Linked DNA regions of Homo sapiens: region 1 is linked to region 2. Evidence: fine-mapped expression QTL. A gene starts in region 2. The other region holds a variant in brackets. All regions are shown on one strand. Distances are between the middles of the regions.

Region 1 (2,916 bases), 45 kb after region 2:
GAAAGATACTGTCACATTGTGACAAAAGAGAATTTGGTGATGTCGGTGGTCACCTTGGTGACAGGCTCACAGCTAGAACTGCATTTATGAGGTTCTACAGAGAGTCATTGTGACCAAAAGTCCCCCTCCAGGGTGTTAAACTCCTGGAGGATACTCATAAGCCAGGACTTCCCAAGAGTGTCCCATGGAACCTGAGTTCTAAGGACGGTACATGAAAAAAATCAACATGGGTTCCATGATCAAAGAAGTTTGGGAAATGGGCTAAATGAAAGGACTTCCAAGGCCTTTTATCTGCTAATGAGAAAGGTGATGTTTCTAGAGGCAAGAGACAGACTGCAGCTCTCTCTGCATGCTCTCATGAAATATCTCAAAGAAACAGAATTCCTTAAGGGTCCCTTTGGGAAACACTACTGCCGGTCTATGTGTGAATGACTGGAGCCACATAGAATGTTTTGCAAGAAATAACCAGGACACACAAATGTATAAGAATACATACCGATGCATTTTAAATTTGCCCACTTTTTCGATCAAAAACAAACAAGCGTAAGTTGTTTTCCCTTTCCATGTCCATTTCTAGAACAAGCCCTGTGAAAAACAAGCTGCTGTCCCTGCTAGAGGCATCCTGCAATCCATGGATGTTTATCACCAAGCCATTGTTAACATGAGGTAATGGCTATGCAGAATTTGTTTCACTCACCCCTTGGAACTCAGATTCCCTGTGGAGAGTTGGAGTAATATATATGAGGACAATAGGGAGCCTGAAAGTTAAGAATTCATCCTGTTGTATTTCTCCAATGGCACATTCACGATGTGGCTCCATGGTTTAATGCAGACTGAAAAGCAGTTGGCATTTCACAGCAGGAGGTTAGACATGGAGTGTGCTACTGGGTCAGGGTAGCTTGACTGGATATAAGTGTGTGTGATGGATGCTGTAATGAGGTGGGAGGCAGGTGACCTGAATTTTAGTCCCAAAGATACCACACTAAACTCTTGCTATGTGACCTTAGCCAAATTCTTAGTTTTCTTATCTGTAAAATGAGGTTTAGATGGTCCTGAAACCACCCACTCATGCTCCTCCTCCTCCTCATCTTTCCTGGCTGACTGGGATGATGACCATGAGGCAATGTTGGCAGCCAGGAGTAGAAAATGGCAGACTCACTAGAACATCTGAATCCCTGAAAAACAGTATCGCTGTTGCTGCTGATTAAACCTCCCCCTTGAGAAAGGAAAACATTTTTTGTAAGCTACTGGATGTTTTGGGTCCCTGTGTTTGCCATCTTCCTTATTTCATATGAGAACTAGTACCGAAAAGTAAGCACTATAACAAACATCTAAAATGGAAGGTATTAGCTTAGCATTCAGACTGAAGGCAGGAATAAAATGGTTATGAGTGGCTAGAAAGTGAAAGCCTCATGTTATCCATGGATAACTTTAAAAATTATCATCTGTGATTATTTGGAAGGTAGACCAAGAACGTATTGAGTCTGTGGCTTTAGGGAAAGCAGGTGAAAAGAGTAGGAATATTAGTGTATGTCAACTGCTATTTGTTGTTTTTAATCAAGTGCTACAAGAAACAGATAAACTCAAGCAAGAATTGGTTAGTTTGCCAGCCAAAGTGGAACTGGAAAAAAAAATACAAAGCTTCTTGGGGCTGAAAAAACTCTTGGGTTCTATACCTCAAATACGAAAAGATAAGATTTGCAGATCAAAAAAA[A/AAG]AGAGAGAGAGAGAGAGAGAGAGAGATCCAGCCAAGTGGCAAAGATAATATCAATAAAGTTGCTTTGCCACCCAGGCTATTTTAGACTTCAATGTGGATTCCATGATGGCGGAATAGATGGTATGCTCCAGGAAGACAAACCTTAGATCAGGTCTAGAAAAGAATTTGGGGGTTATTTACGAGCACATGAAACTGACTGGAAACAAATAGGTCAGATACCTATCGAGTTTTTGAGAAAACCGTAATGCCCAGGAAACCACAAGCTTGAATCTGTAAAATTACCCTCATGTAACAGCAGAAAGTGGGCTCTGGGAGATGTGCAACTCCTAGTAACATACTCCTCAATATTCACCGTATAAGGGTCCATGGAGGCTAACGGACAAAAATATTCTCCAGGAGGTCAGAGCCAAGAGACAGAGGAAAATGAGGAAGAAAGTTCCTTGCAGAGGACAGACCCAGGGTCTATCAAAACATTTTCTTCTAGGGTTTGGGGATCTTTGCAATACCTACCCTACAGGATTCCATTATTGCTCTGGACCAGGGAATTCTTTAGGCATTTTTAGTGTGGTTAGCCAGTCCACTTTTGTGTATTGAATAGGCAGATGGAGCAAAGATAACTGGTCTTTTAGTTCAAAGGATGCTGAACTTCAAGGAACTGTATCTGGACTTTCAGAAGAGGCCAGAGCATCATTTGGAGATCCTCGACTTTGATATCAACAAGTAGACAATTCAATAAGTGGACAAAATTTTGGGTTTTCTCCCCAGAGTAATATGCACGTATGTTTTATGTAAAGGATGATAGCAGCAAAAGGGGCTAACTGTGATAGAGGTTGCTAGCTACCTACTAAAAATCCATTCTCCCCTTCTTACTGGCACAGAGCTAAACTGCATTACTCAGCCTCCCTCGCAGTGAAGTGGCCAAGTTTTCTTCAGTGAAACATGATTGCAGTGACACATGTCACCTCTACGTTTGGCCCATACAAACCTCACACTTATCCCAATATGTTCTTTCTTTCTACTGGTTGATTGGTGTGGCAAAGCTTTGTATAACTTCTAGATGCCACATATTGAGGATGGCAGAGCTATCCCCAAATGGCTCTATAGGGACCACTAAGTGACTGTGGAGGAGAGCTGACATCAATCCAAATCCTATTATAAAAACTTTTTGTTTTTAAGCCACTGGAATTTGGGTTTTATTTCAA
Region 2 (2,916 bases):
CATAAAAAGGAGAATAGTAGTAGCAAAGAATAAATGCATTAACTCATCGGCCCACAGGTTTCCCCTGAAATACACATCAGCACGGCTGGAGAGATTGCAAATTAGGGAATGAAAACATAAAAATCAAAAAGGATCAGCTAACTCCAGGGGGAAAAAAATTTCCCCTAGCAGAAGGTTATATCTTGTGGTCACACTACAGACCAGGTCATCCTTGCAGCAGGCATTCAAGCTTGTTCTGAGTTGAATGTAAGGATGCAAGCTCCATCCAACTCAACCCCAAAAATCCGAGTTCAACCTTAACATTTTCAAGAAACATTAGCCCTAGATGTAATTTCGGATACAAAACCAAAAAACAAAAACCTTCTCACCCAAAGGTCGGCCACCATGAAGCCCATGGGCCCAGAGGGAGTACCCGGTAGTTTCAGGCCGCTCGCTTATCTTCCTTTTAAAGAGACCTTGAGGCACCAGTCCTGCCTCCAAACGAAATCCTATTCGGCGCTACCCTCTCTGGAGGAGCCCATTCTTACCCTGCACTAACAACTGCACGGGACTTAACGACTCCACCACCCACCAACTCCTCCAAAAGGGAGAGACACAGCCAAAGCATCCCACTGGGGCGTTCTCTTTCGCACACGGACGCTCCCGCACTCCCTGGCCCTTTCTGGAGCGACGCTCCCCGACTGCCATCTCCGCGATGAAGACAGCCTGTGCCCCACTGCCTGGGACGAGGGTTCCAGCCCCGGCTACTTCACTACTTAGACCTGTCACTTTACTCTCTGCACCTATACTCTCTGGACCTCCGGATCCTCATTTGTTCAAACCTAACTGCCTGTCTGGTTCGTGTTAAACGAGAAAGCACCCGCCCCAGCCCCGCAGCGGGCCCGCCCCAACCGCCTGCTGACTGGCACCCTAGGGGAATGCGGCGGAGAGTGGAGCCGGTGGAAACGCAGGGCAACGCCGCGGGGGCTTGTGGGGCTGGCCCCACGGGGCGGGCTCTTGCCGCCCCCCGCGTATCCCCGCAGCTTGCCGCTCACCCCGCCGCCGCTGACCGCGCCGATGCCGTCGAACTCCCGGCCCAGCCCGTCGGAGTCGTCGAGCACGTACGCGCCGCCGGGCGCCAGCAGCGCACACAGCAGCAAGGGCACCGCGGCGCGGCCCGCCGAACCCGCGGCCGCAGTCATAGCTTTCGCTCGGCGTTGCCAGGAAGCCGAGAGTAGCCACTCAGCCATTGTGTGGGTCACATGACTCCGGCGCCCAGGGAGGCGGGTCCCGTCGCCGCCACGATAGATACGGGCAGGAGGCCGCTGATGCTGACGCCGCCGCCGCCATTTTGAGTGCGGGTCAAGGGCCTCTGACGCAGCTGGCGGAGTGTTGAGAAAAGAAGCAGCGAGCTTTTTCTTATCGCTCGCGTGTCTGTGGTCAGCTACTGGATTTCACATGTACTTACTGCTGGCTTCTCTTCCGGCGTCACCTGGTGGAGCACTTTAACGCAGGGAAGGTGGATTCCAAGGTCCGCCAAAGGAAGAGGGCCATGAGTGGCCCTACCATGGCTCTTCCCCAGCATCTCAGGGAGTATCTACCTCGTGCGAGGACCAGGCTTGGACACCAGGTCCCGATTCCATTGTCATCTTGGTGGAATCACTTTGCTTTTGGAGCCTGAGTTTTCCCTTATGTGAGATGAGGCGAGAAGAGCAGCAGAGTGAGGGACTGAGAGAAAAGTTAATAAGCACTCAGTACATTTGAATGCATTCCACAAGTGGCAAATAGCTGAGAAGGTTCTCCAGTCTGGTAACTACCCCGGCATATTCAAAGCTTTTAGCCTTGAAGGAGTTAATAATATACCACCTCAAAATATGCTGCTGTGGCATATTGACTATTTTAAATTAAAGGCACTTAAAAACAGCAGGTGCAAGATCACTGTCATGGATATTATGTGTCTTAAAAGGAGGAGATGAAATTCCCATGTGAAAGATGTCTTCCCTATAAAATAACATTGTTATCTTCAAGGACAGAAAGTTGAAGTCGAGGGAAATCTGTCCAAACAAAATTTGTTAATCCCTATCTTTCTAGTCGCTTCTTTACCCCAAGCCCCTTCGCCTTATCATGTTTCACAACTACTATTTTTTGTCCATTTCACTCTATAAGCAATTGGCTCTTAACTGCTGCTTTAGGTCTTTTTTTTTTTTAATGAGGGCCCCCGTGCTATGTAAAATAAACATTTGTGTGGTTGTCTCCTGTCAGTCTATTAATATCTTAAATCAATTTAATACTAGGGCCATGCTGGGACCCTACAGGGACGAAGGTGAAATTTTGCCTCCCCTACAATTTTATAAACTATCTTCCACTGTCAGTTGAAGTGATTCCAGACAGGTAACTCTAAATTGGTAGGAAAGTTGTGAATTGCCCTGAATTTCTGCCACATCCAGCACTGTCCTGAGATTTCTGATTTCCTTGTTATTGAAGTAAATTAAAGAGACTCTGAAGAGCTGCAGAGAAAGATTTTCTGATCCCCAAATTTCTCTTAGCAGAAGTATGGAACTGGTTATCATTGCCTACACAAGCCCCTGAGATACCACAATGGCAAGGAAAAGACCCAGAGACTTTAGGACCTGTGGGATTTGTCTGCAGAACCCTATTTGGAATCTGATTATTTTGCCCCTTAACCACAAACCTAAATCTAAGTTTCAAGAACTCAATTATACTTGAAGGTCAAAGCTCTGGGCAATCCAATAAATATGCACATTAAGAACCCGATATCCCTGGGTTCTTAATGTACATTAGATATGTTTGTTCTTTCTTTCTTTTTGAATTGACTCTACGTCTATCCTGGTTTACTAAGGACAGTCACAACTTTTGTCTAAACATAATTACTGATAATGCTCCTTTCACCCTCAGTAGTCTTCTGGCTTGGATCAG

Evidence for each region.
Region 1: its variant is fine-mapped to the expression of GALC in monocytes after Pam3CSK4 (Quach 2016, PIP 0.95).

The regions. Positions count from the first base shown.
Region 1 is chr14:88,036,774-88,039,689 of GRCh38, forward strand. The region is part of intron 2 of HISLA (HIF1A stabilizing long noncoding RNA); the gene reads left to right. Among named protein-coding and RNA genes, the nearest start is that of LINC01147, 12 kb to the left of the region's middle. RefSeq lists an enhancer at 495-996. The variant A/AAG (reference allele first, on the strand shown) is at 1,715.
Region 2 is chr14:87,991,936-87,994,851 of GRCh38, forward strand. GALC (galactosylceramidase) reads right to left here and starts at 1,247. Exons shown (of 17, transcript NM_000153.4): 1 at 1,035-1,247. The coding sequence starts at 1,229. RefSeq lists a silencer at 915-1,104 and enhancers at 1,060-1,560, 1,255-1,584.